2 separate regions of the Homo sapiens genome follow, and region 1 is linked to region 2. Evidence: fine-mapped expression QTL. A gene starts in region 2. The other region holds a variant in brackets. All regions are shown on one strand. Distances are between the middles of the regions. Region 1 overlaps PEX1 (peroxisomal biogenesis factor 1). Region 2 holds the start of FAM133B (family with sequence similarity 133 member B).

The links. PIP is the estimated chance that this variant, and not a neighbour inherited with it, causes the effect. A credible set is the group of variants that fine-mapping cannot tell apart.
Region 1: its variant is the best candidate, but not a certain one, in a credible set for the expression of FAM133B in whole blood (INTERVAL, PIP 0.67).

The regions. Positions count from the first base shown.
Region 1 is chr7:92,504,296-92,509,679 of GRCh38, reverse strand. PEX1 (peroxisomal biogenesis factor 1) reads left to right here. Exons shown (of 24, transcript NM_000466.3): 9 at 269-351; 10 at 2,554-2,686; 11 at 3,336-3,432; 12 at 4,778-4,948. Among named protein-coding and RNA genes, the nearest start is that of PEX1, 22 kb to the left of the region's middle. The variant A/G (reference allele first, on the strand shown) is at 2,921.
Region 2 is chr7:92,587,172-92,592,555 of GRCh38, reverse strand. It overlaps FAM133B (family with sequence similarity 133 member B), which reads left to right and starts at 2,166. Exons shown (of 11, transcript NM_152789.4): 1 at 2,166-2,288. The coding sequence starts at 2,265. It overlaps LOC105375397 (a long non-coding RNA gene), which reads left to right. Exons shown (of 3, transcript XR_927744.3): 3 at 408-536. RefSeq lists enhancers at 2,009-2,288, 2,379-2,438.

The DNA of each region.
Region 1 (5,384 bases), 83 kb after region 2:
TAATTGTGACACAAATCAAAATTATAGATAAAAATATACCTGTAAAATGTATTAAGGCAATAACATTCTTTCTGCTTGTTGACCATAAATATTTATATTCCCTGGATGGGTACATTGTTATTGTCAAGGGTGTTTAAATAATGATCTTGCATGCATAATTTATTCTCTCTGGTATAACAGAATCAGCAATTTAGTTTTCTGGGACCCGAGAAAAACATGCAAAAGACATACTTTGAAATGTAAAACTGATTTTTCCTTGCAACTGTAGGTCCTTCTAGATCCTATGGTAAAAGAAGAAAACAGTGAGGAAATTGACTTTATTCTTCCTTTTTTAAAGCTGAGCTCTTTGGGGTAAGAAGTTATGGCCAAACTAGCATGTTAGACATGTTTTTAACACTATATCTGGCAGAGTTTTCAATGTAAATATTAAAGTAGATGTTAATGTCAATAAGTGATCTTAATAATGCATCAGTAGATATTTTTTCAAGGATTGTCTCTATCTTCACGCCTAGCTTATAATTTGCCTTGTCGTCTTTTTTTTTTTCTCTTTATTTTTATGTTTTTATCCATCCCTGGTGGTAGGGGATAACCTTGTCTTCTTCGATAACAAGAAGTCTGAAGCTTATTAGAAATTTTACTTTGAGAATTGATCGATGAGAAGAAAGCAACTAGATATCACGTGGATCATATATGCTTGAATAAAACAATAATTCTTAGAACAAATAAATACATTTTAAAAGTTAAAGCCAAAAACATTAGTTGAATGTTTAAAAATATTTCAAATTAAGTTATTCCTTCACTGTCTTGTATTACTGTAATAATTTGGATTATTTGTGTTTTTCTCAACTTTTAAAACAAATATTTAAAAAATTCCTCTTTTGATTAAGTAGGGCTAGATAAAATATAAAAAATATTTTTTAAACTCCTCTTAATTTCCATATTTCTTATATAATATGAGAATCTCTTATAAACACTACCTCTTAGAAGTCTCCACAGAAGCTTTGGTAGATGTAGTAGTAGGGATTTGATTTCTTAGAATGGTATAATCTGTAAATGTTTTAGTAAAAGGATTAAACGATAAAGTCAAAATGTTTATAGCACAGTGTTTATTAATATAAAATAAAATCTCTTTTTTTTTTTTTGAGATGGACTCTCACTTTGTCACTCAGGCTGGAGTGCAGTGTTGCAATCTCAGCTCATTGCAACCTCCGCCTCCTGGGTTCAAGCAATCCTTCCGCATCAGCCTCCTAAGTAGCTGGGATTACAAGCATGCACCACCACACCTGCCTAATTTTTTGTATTTTTAGTAGAGATGGGGTTTCACCATGTTGGCCAGGCTGGTCTCAAGTGATCCGCCTGCCTCAGCCTCCCAAAGTGCTGGGATTACAGGCGTGAACCACTGTGCCCAGCATAAAGTAAAATCTCTTCAGACTCTCATGTGATCATGTAAAGTGGCAGGCAGTCACAGTCAAGAAGTAGTTTAAAGTTCATGTTTGTAAAATATAATCTACAGATTGATACTGGATTTCATAGGTAATGTTTAAGAGAAAATAAGTTTTTAGTTATCCTCAGTACTTCAAAAGCACCCATTTATGATTATGTTGATTACTAAACTAAATCATTTGGGGGCTAGAGGTGTTTTTTTATGTGTTAAGATTCCTTAAGGAGTTCTATTAGGGCAAAACTTTTAGTAACTGCATATTTTAAAAGTAATAAAACTAATTTTAAAAGCTTGGAGGCTGGGCGCGGTGGCTCACACCTGTAATTCCAGCACTTTGGGAGGCCAAGGCGGGTGGATCACTTGAGGTCAGGAGTTTGAGACGAGCCTGAGCAACATGGTGAAACCTTGTCTCTACTAAAAATACAGAAATTAGCCAGGTGTGGTGGTGGGCACCTGTAATCCCAGCTACTCGGGAGGCTAAGGCAGGAGAATTGCTCGAACTTGGGAGGCAGAGGTTGCAGTGAGCCGAGATCATGCCACTGCACTCCAGCCTGGGTGACAGAGCAAGACTCCGTCTCAAAAAAAAAAAAAAAAAAAAGCTTGAAGTCAGATTCGACATTAATCAGTATACTTTCTCTCAAGTAGGGGACAATTTCTAAGATTTTAGTCTTTTAAAATTTATTAACTAGTCTGAGCATGGTGGCTTGTGTCTATAATCCCAGCACTTTGTGGGGCCGAGGCAGATGGATCACTTGAGCCCAGGAGTTGGAGACTAGCCTGGGCAACATGGCAAAACCCCGTCTCTACAACAAATGCACACACAAAAAACCCAATCAGCTGGGTGTGGTGTTACACTCCTGAAGTCCCAGCTACTCGGGAGGCTGAGGCAGGAGGATCACCTTTGCCAGGGCGTTTGAGGCTGCAGGGAGCTGGGTTCACACCACTGCGCTCCAGCCTGGATGACACAGCAAGCCCCTTTCTCAAAAAAAAAAAGATAAAAAATTAAATTAAATTAATTAACTACACTGGGAAGGCAAAATTCAGCATTTTTTTATAGCTAAATTTTATCCTGCTTCAGTCTTTTATCATGTAACTATGTATATTTTTTACAGAGGAGTGAATTCCTTAGGCGTATCCTCCTTGGAGCACATCACTCACAGCCTCCTGGGACGCCCTTTGTCTCGGCAGCTGATGTCTCTTGTTGCAGGACTTAGGAATGGAGCTCTTTTACTCACAGGAGGAAAGGTAAGTGGTTAAGGTGTGTTCATTTTTCTGTAACATTTAATAACTTTTCATTTATCTTTCTTTGGGTTTTGACCATCTATTATATAGGGTGGGTTTTGACCATCTATTATATAGGGTTTATACGACATATGGAAAGCATTCATTTATTCACTAATATTTCTGTGTGTCTGCTTTTAGGTGTTGGGGGAGTGATGACGAATAAGACTGATGTTCTCCATGCCCTTTTTCTGTGTC[A/G]GTTGATACAATTATATGGTTTTTCTTTTTTAGGCTATTAGGTGTTGATAGGGTTGAGTAACTTACAAATGTTGAACCAGCCTTGCATACCTGTGATAAATACCACGTAGTTGTGGTGTATCATTCTTTCTACATTGCTGAGTTTTATCTGCTAATGTTCTGTTGAGCTTTTGTCCATTTAAGTTTGAAAGTGATTAGTTTGCAGTTTTCTGTTTTTGTGTTGTCTTTGTCTGGTTTTGCTATCCGTGTAAATCTGGCCTCATAAAATGAGATGGGAAGTATTCTCTCCTCTTCTTTTGTTTTTTTGGAAGAGGTTGTATAAAATTGAGGCTGAATCTTGGTGGTTGCCACAATGACAGGAACTATTTCTGTGACTGAATATATTGGGAATTCCTATAAAGCAATTATTTTCTAGGGAAGTGGAAAATCAACTTTAGCCAAAGCAATCTGTAAAGAAGCATTTGACAAACTGGATGCCCATGTGGAGAGAGTTGACTGTAAAGCTTTACGAGGTATGAGTATGGTAACACTCTATATAAATCCCTTTTTCATTAGAAAGACAGGAATGTTATACATAATGCTGTCAATCTAATAAATACACATATCATCTAGTCTTTAACTTTTCTGTTTATCATTTAGTCATTAAAATTTCTTTGGCTTTCTAATGTTTTTGATAAAATTTCTAAAACTCTCCATATTTAATGGAGGCCTATTTTTTTTTCTAGCCAGAACTTTTTGTAGACTACATTTCTGGAAGTGCTCACTGACACCACTCTGAAAAATTAGTACTTAGAATATACTCTAATTGGTATAAATGATCTCTGAATTGCTATGGAAAACTGGGAGAATGGTTGCTTCAGGGGAGAGAAAGTAGGAGGCTGTGGACAGCAATGAGGAGAATTACAGTTCACCATATAACACTTTTGTACTTTTAAAGTCCTTAACATTTACATTATTATCTATTCAATTAAAAAATATTGGGAAGATTTTACTTTGAACAGTTAATTTTTCCCCCATGGGTACCGCTGTCATATAGTTCCAACTAATCATGAACTTGTGTATTTCCTGTTCTTTGTAAATTTAAACTTTGTAACTCACCAGGAAGTTTGAAGCCAAATTTGTGTTTCAAATATAGCAACTCCAGGATCTCTAGGCAGATGCATTTGCATTTGATTTTAAATGAATCTTGATCCCTTACTCTCACTTATGTTTTCCCACATCCTACTTTTTTTATTTTGTTGTAAGCCATCTAAAATTCTCAATGGGATGAAACTGGGTATAAATGAATACATGCATACAGGAATTATAGTAGCATATTCCTTTTCTTTTTTCTTTTTTTTTTTTTTTGAGACAGAGTCTTGCTCTGTAGCCCAGGCTGGAGTGCAGTGGTGCGATCTCGGCTCACTATAGCCTCCACCTCCCAGGTTCAAGCAATTCTCGTGCCTCAACCTCCCGAGTAATTGGGACTACAGGTGCATGCCACCACACCTGGCTAATTTTTGTATTTTTTAGTAGAGATGGGGTTTCACCATGTTGGCCAGGCTGATCTCAAACTCCTGACCTCAAAGTGATCTGCCTGCCTTGGTTTCCCAAAGTGCTGGGATTACTAGCATAAGCCACTGCACCTGGCCTCCTTTTCTGAGTTTTATAAAATTTGATACTTTACTGCACGCTTTGAGACTGTATTAATTGAACCATGTTGATGAACAAGTTTTTGTGATGGGTATATTAATAAAATATAGATCAAATTTTTATAGTTAAATCAATATCGAGCTTTTCTAGTGCTTTCAAAAGGACAACCTGAATTTTCCCAGCACTGAAATGATACTGAAACCATTTCATATCTTCTGTATTAAGGAAAAAGGCTTGAAAACATACAAAAAACCCTAGAGGTGGCTTTCTCAGAGGCAGTGTGGATGCAGCCATCTGTTGTCCTGCTGGATGACCTTGACCTCATTGCTGGACTGCCTGCTGTCCCGGAACATGAGCACAGTCCTGATGCGGTGCAGAGCCAGCGGCTTGCTCATGGTAAATGCATCCACCACTGGCTTAAGGTCTTGTTCTTTTGTCAGTCAGCATTTTTAGTCTTAACAATAAATCTACTCTCTTCAGAGAATAATATATGTGTTATGTTAAGTGTTGTGTTTGAGGCCCCTGATGGCATTCTACAGTTGTCCTATAGACTGTAATAGCAAAATTGGTAGAGTAAAAACAGTGTGAAAATTCTGCAACTTCATGGTTAGTCCTTTAGGGTTTTTCATTCTCCCTTACTTATTGTTTAATTTACAGATTTACTCTTTTGTTCATTTGACAAATATTTGTCAAATGCTTGTGCACAGTCTGTATTCTCAAATTCTAGGAGAAAAAGAAGGGTGAACAGTATTAGCGCAGAACGATACTAATAATGATGGCTACTGTGTATGAGTAGCCAGCCCTTTCTTGGCTTTCTTGGATTGCTTTGTAT
Region 2 (5,384 bases):
TGTGTGTATTTAATAGAGACTGCATCTTGTAAATGCTTTCATGTTTGACACACCTGTGTTTGAATCCCCAGCTTCTCTGCTTTCTTGCTGTGGAAGCTGGCACAAATTACTCGGCTTCCCTTCGCCTCGGTTTTTCTCATCCACAAAATGGAATGTAATCTCCTGGTTATGCCTAGAACATTCGGGAGGGCATGTAGGCCCACTGCTAGGACAGAAATGTATTTATTAGCAGATCACACATGTGCAGAGAATGTGTAAAGATTTCTACTGTCACTGAATTATATCCTGAGAAGTCTTGGACTGATTTGTTCTTTATGTAGTCCACTCAGATGAGCTCCCGATAGCTCTTGCCATCTTCCTTATCTTCACAGGCCCCTGGTCATTTTCTTGTTTCTCTGTCCCCCCAGGGATTCACGTTTCATCCAGGAGGGGTTGTGTACACTCGCAGAGAGAGAGAGACTTCTAAAGGAAACACAACCTTTCTGTTGACTTATACCATATTTTTAAAAATCTCTGTGTTCTGTACAATCAGCCAACCAAGGAAGTGAAAGGTAAGAAGGAGCTGAAGAGGGAAAAAAAAAACTATATTCTCTCACAGGTATTATCATGCTTATCATGTTGGAGTATTAAAAATAATATCTGTCAAATGCCTAGAATATTTAAAACATGAAAAATAAGCCAGGAAAGAAAGAATAACTTAATATTAATAGGTTCTCCTCTTCCTCTTGTGTATAAAAAGAAGCCTGTCTTCAGTCAGAGTCCCCAGCTTAAGTCGGGGGTAATGGAGGAGGAGGAGAAATGAGAGACTGGAGGCCTCATTTTGGAAAGTGGGTTACTGAGGAAGAATCAACACTTAGTAGGGAGCAGAACCACCAAGGACTGCATGTGAGAGTTTGGAAAAGTTTTGAGACAGAAGATGGTAGTTGGGAGCATCTGTCATATAGTGTAGCATGAAAAATGCAGGGAGGGAGGGAGGCAGAGATCGGGAAAGATGATTTTAAAGCATGTTCTTGTATGTAATTAGTGTAATTCCCATTTTGCCATTTCCAAGAGTCCGGAGAAGATCCTAATTGATTTTCAACTACTTCCTAATGATACTTGCTAAGATGAACCCAGAGGGGTCGCTTTATCTATAAATACTTACTAAATATGATTATCTTCTCTGGAGCCCAGATCATCTTCCTTAAAGTTGCAGTGCAGTAGTGCCAATATTACGATATGCTATGCAGTAAAGTTGGCCCTGTGTGTGTTTATTGCCCTTACGAGTTTATAAACAGGCTCCTTGACGATAGGGATTTTTCTTAATCATCTTTGTGCCCTACCCAGCTCCAGCTTCCAGCCACCCAGTTAGTGAAAACTGTACAAACTACATGTTCAAAAATTAGTGTGAAATGAATGCACAGGTGATGAATGAATGGGATTGAAATTAAAGGGTGATTTCGTTAGCAGCGTCTATGACAGCACTGCCTTTCCCCCCACCAGCTGATGGGCTCCGTGAGGGACCAAGGCTCTTTGGTCCTCACTTTGTCCCCAGCACTTGCACTCTGTCAAGCACAAAATAAGCATCGGGAGAATCTTTGTGTCCCCTCGAATGAGTATTTCAGTGTATCAAGAATGGAAGAAAGGCCAAGCGCAGTGGCTCATGCCTGTAATCCCAGCACTTTGGGTCGAGGCGGGCGGATCACTTGAGGTCAGGAGTTATAGACCAGCCTGGCCAACGTGGTAAAACCCTGTCTCTACTAAAAATACAAAAAATTTAGCCCGGCGTGTTGACGGCCGCCTGTAATCTCAGCTACTCGGGATGCTGAGGCAGGAAAATCGCTTGAACCCGGGAGGTGGAGGCTGCAGTGAGCCTAGATCGTGCCACTGCACTCCAGCCTGGGCGACGGAGCGAGAGTCTGTCTAAAAAAAAAAAAAAAAAAAAAAAAAAAAAAAAGAATGGAAGAAAGCAAAACAATCCAAGGCCAAACTGAAGCGAGCTGCCTTGGTGGGGCTCCGGTGCAGAAGCGCAGCGTCGCCTGCTCTTGGGTGCCTAATGAACGACCGGACTCCTGCAGGCGCTCCGCCAACTGCAGCGATCTCTGGAGCCGGCCTGTCCTCCACAGAGATAGGGGGCGCTGTAGCAGAGCGCGGCCGTCGAGTCCGCGTGGTGCCGCTCTCTAGGCGGAGTGGGGAGGCGGCAAGAGGACCTGCGGCAGGCCCTCTTCGGCAGTCTCTCCGGCCCGGTTTCCCTCGGCGTGCTACTGTGCGCTCGATCCAGCACCATGGGGAAGCGGGACAATCGGGTGGTGAGTACTCAGCCGGGAAAACAGTGGGGCGACGCAGGGCCCGGCGGCAGGACAGCGAGAACCCTCGCTGTTCCCGGCCGGGCCGGAGGGCAAGCGGCAGCCCTCAGACGTGGGGCCTGGAGACCCAGCACCCTCCGCCGATCCCAGATGCGCGTGCGCCGCGCACGCAGTTGGCGCTTTAGGGTTCCCAGCTCTCTCTTGCCCGCCCCTTTTTTCTTCCCTCACCTCGTCGCTCTTTCTGGCGCTGCTGGTTTGCACTCTTGCCTGCTGTACGCGGGCCCCCAGTGCCCACTTAGAACCGCGAGGGCTCGGGGAACCCCCCCCACACCTGGCCCCGCCATGTAACTCCGAAGACTTAGGCCCTTGGACGCATCCGACTCACCCGCCCCTTGGTATCGGCCGCCCCAGGTCCGCACCCCTCTCCTGCGCACCCAAGTGGGAGGGAGGCACAGAGGCCTCGACGCGGTCCCTGTGCCGGAGAGCCAGCAGCGCGCCTGGTTTTAGCGACAAGCAGGCTCCCGTTTGAAAATGGGATGGCAGCATTTGCTTTCGTGTCTCCAGCGCCCTGTAGGACCTGGCCCCCATAGACACTGTGAGGGAATGAATGGCGTGAAAATAGTTGGCTTTCGAGTCCAACACAAAACTGGAATGTCAGTTTTGTTCCGTCGGAAGTTGGGTGACCTAGAACAAGTTACTTTTCTTCTCTGTGCCGTCGTTTATAAAAGGGGATCATTATTATCTACAACCTTACAGATTAATTGAAATCACAAAAGGCAAGATGTGTGAGCGAGTACTGGGCATGAAAATTATTACTCTAGTGAATGAGATAAAAGAGATGCATAAATAACTTACAGCAGAAAGAGTAGGAAATGGTCCTTGATAGTTGTTAGAGATTCTAAAGGCATTCAAAAGAAAAGGTGCTTTTGAGAAGCGGAGATGGGAGGAAAGTATTCTAGACCGCTGGGGCGGGGAGGGGGCTGAAAAACTCAGGTTATGAATCAGATTGAATGAGTAGTAAACATAATGAAATAACAATAAGCTTAGGTTGCAGCCTGACAATTTCTGGGCTTGCCTGTGACAAAGTTTTAGCCACTGAGTAGCAAAATGAGGAAAATGCACGTAAAACGAATGTGCTACGTTTCTTGAACTCGCTTTTTTATTCAACAATTATTTGCAAGCTGTGTGTGTCTCACACCAAAGGAGACTTAACATTTACGAAATGATGACACTTGCCATCTGTAGTAGCCAGTTCTTGCATGGCTTTTATAAAGAAAAACCTGAGGCTGGGTAATTTATAAAGAAAAGTGTTTAATTGGCTCACGGTTCTATGGGCTGTACAGGAAGCTTAGCGGCATCTGCTTCTGGGGAGGCCTCAGGGAGCTGTTACTCATGGTGGAAGGCAAAGCAGGAGCAGGCGTCTTACATGGCAGGAGCGGGACCAAGAGAGGGACGGGGAGAGTTGCTACACAGTTTTAAACAACCGCATCTGTTGAGAAATCATCTCTATGCAGTGCTGGGGAGAGGAGGATGCTAAGCCATTCATGAGAACTCCGCCCCCATGATCCAGTCACCTCCCACCAGGCCCCACCTCCAACATTGGGGATTACAATTCGACATGAGATTTGGGCGGGGACACAGATCCAAACCATTTCACCATCTTAAAAACTTTGTAGTTCTGTATAGTCTTTATAATGGAAAATGTCTAGGAACCACTGTGGTAGTGAATCTTGATTACAAGATAGCGGGTTGTTCTTTCTCCTGGCTGTAGGTGAGACTTTGTTGTGCTATCTTGATTGTCATGGCGTTGAAATTATGTAGCATAACACCATTTCAGCATAGGAGCATCCTTAGGTGTTTGAGTATTTTGGGCTCTTCTAATACCCTTGGGCCTTGAATGTTTAGAGATCACCTGACCTTGGATGCAGTTTCATATACAGACCTAAAATGTTTCATATTACTGAAAAAACGTTTTGGTTGAAACATTCCTCTAAAACATTTGAAAAACTTACCAAATTAGCTTCATTTACTAGAACATTTTGATAGCTCTGGGCTCTACTTACTACTTTTGGTATGCAGCTATGGCACAGAGTATTCTGGTAACATTTTGTGTGCACTTCAAAGATTGGGATTAAGAACAAGAAATTAAGAGGTAGAAGACACGGATTGTCTAATTCAGTCTCCTCATTGCATAGAGGAGGGGTAAGACTTTAAACTGGGACCAAAACTTCAGTCATCTGACACTCAATTCTGTACATCTTAACTCTTGATTTTCTTTTTAAGACTTTTTTTTTTAAGCATTTTTAGTTTTACAGCAAAATTGAGAGGAAGGTACAAAGATATCCCGTTTACCTCCTGACCCCACTCGTGCATAGCCTCCCCATTATGAACATCCTTCACCAGAGTGGTACATTTGTTAAAATTGATGAACCTACATTGACATGTTACTATCATCCAGTCAGTAGTTTACATTAGTGCTCACTCTTAGTGTTCATTCTCTATGGGCTTGGACAAATAAATTTATTTATTTATTTATTTAGACACAGTATCTCACTCTTGCCCAAGCTGGAGTGCAGTGTCGCCATCATGGCTCACTGCAGCTTCAACTTCCCAGGCTCAAGGGATGCTCTCACGTCAGCCTCCCAAGTAGCTGGGACCACAGGTGTGTGGAACCACACCTGGCTAATTTTTTGTTGTTTTTTTGTAGAGATGGGGTTTCACCATGCTGCCCAGGCTGGTCTCAAATTCCTGGCCTCAAGCAATCCTCCCGTCTCGGCCTCCAAAAGTGTTCGGATTACAGGAGTGCCACCACATGCGTTCACCAATATAGTATCATAAAGAGTAAAAATCCTCTCTTCGGCCTAGCCATTCCTCTACCACCCCTGTCCCCAAGTGTGGCAACCACTGATCTTTTTACTGACTCCATAGTTTTGCCATAACACTTGATTTGGAGCAACAAAATGAATATTTGCTTGTGAAAATATTGGCATTTTTTGAGATTGTCTCAAAAACAGTTCCTGTTCTTTCTTACATTGATGAAACAATCATAGTTTTAAAGATGATAGGATTGCTTTCCAAAAAAAGCCCCAGTGAATTTCA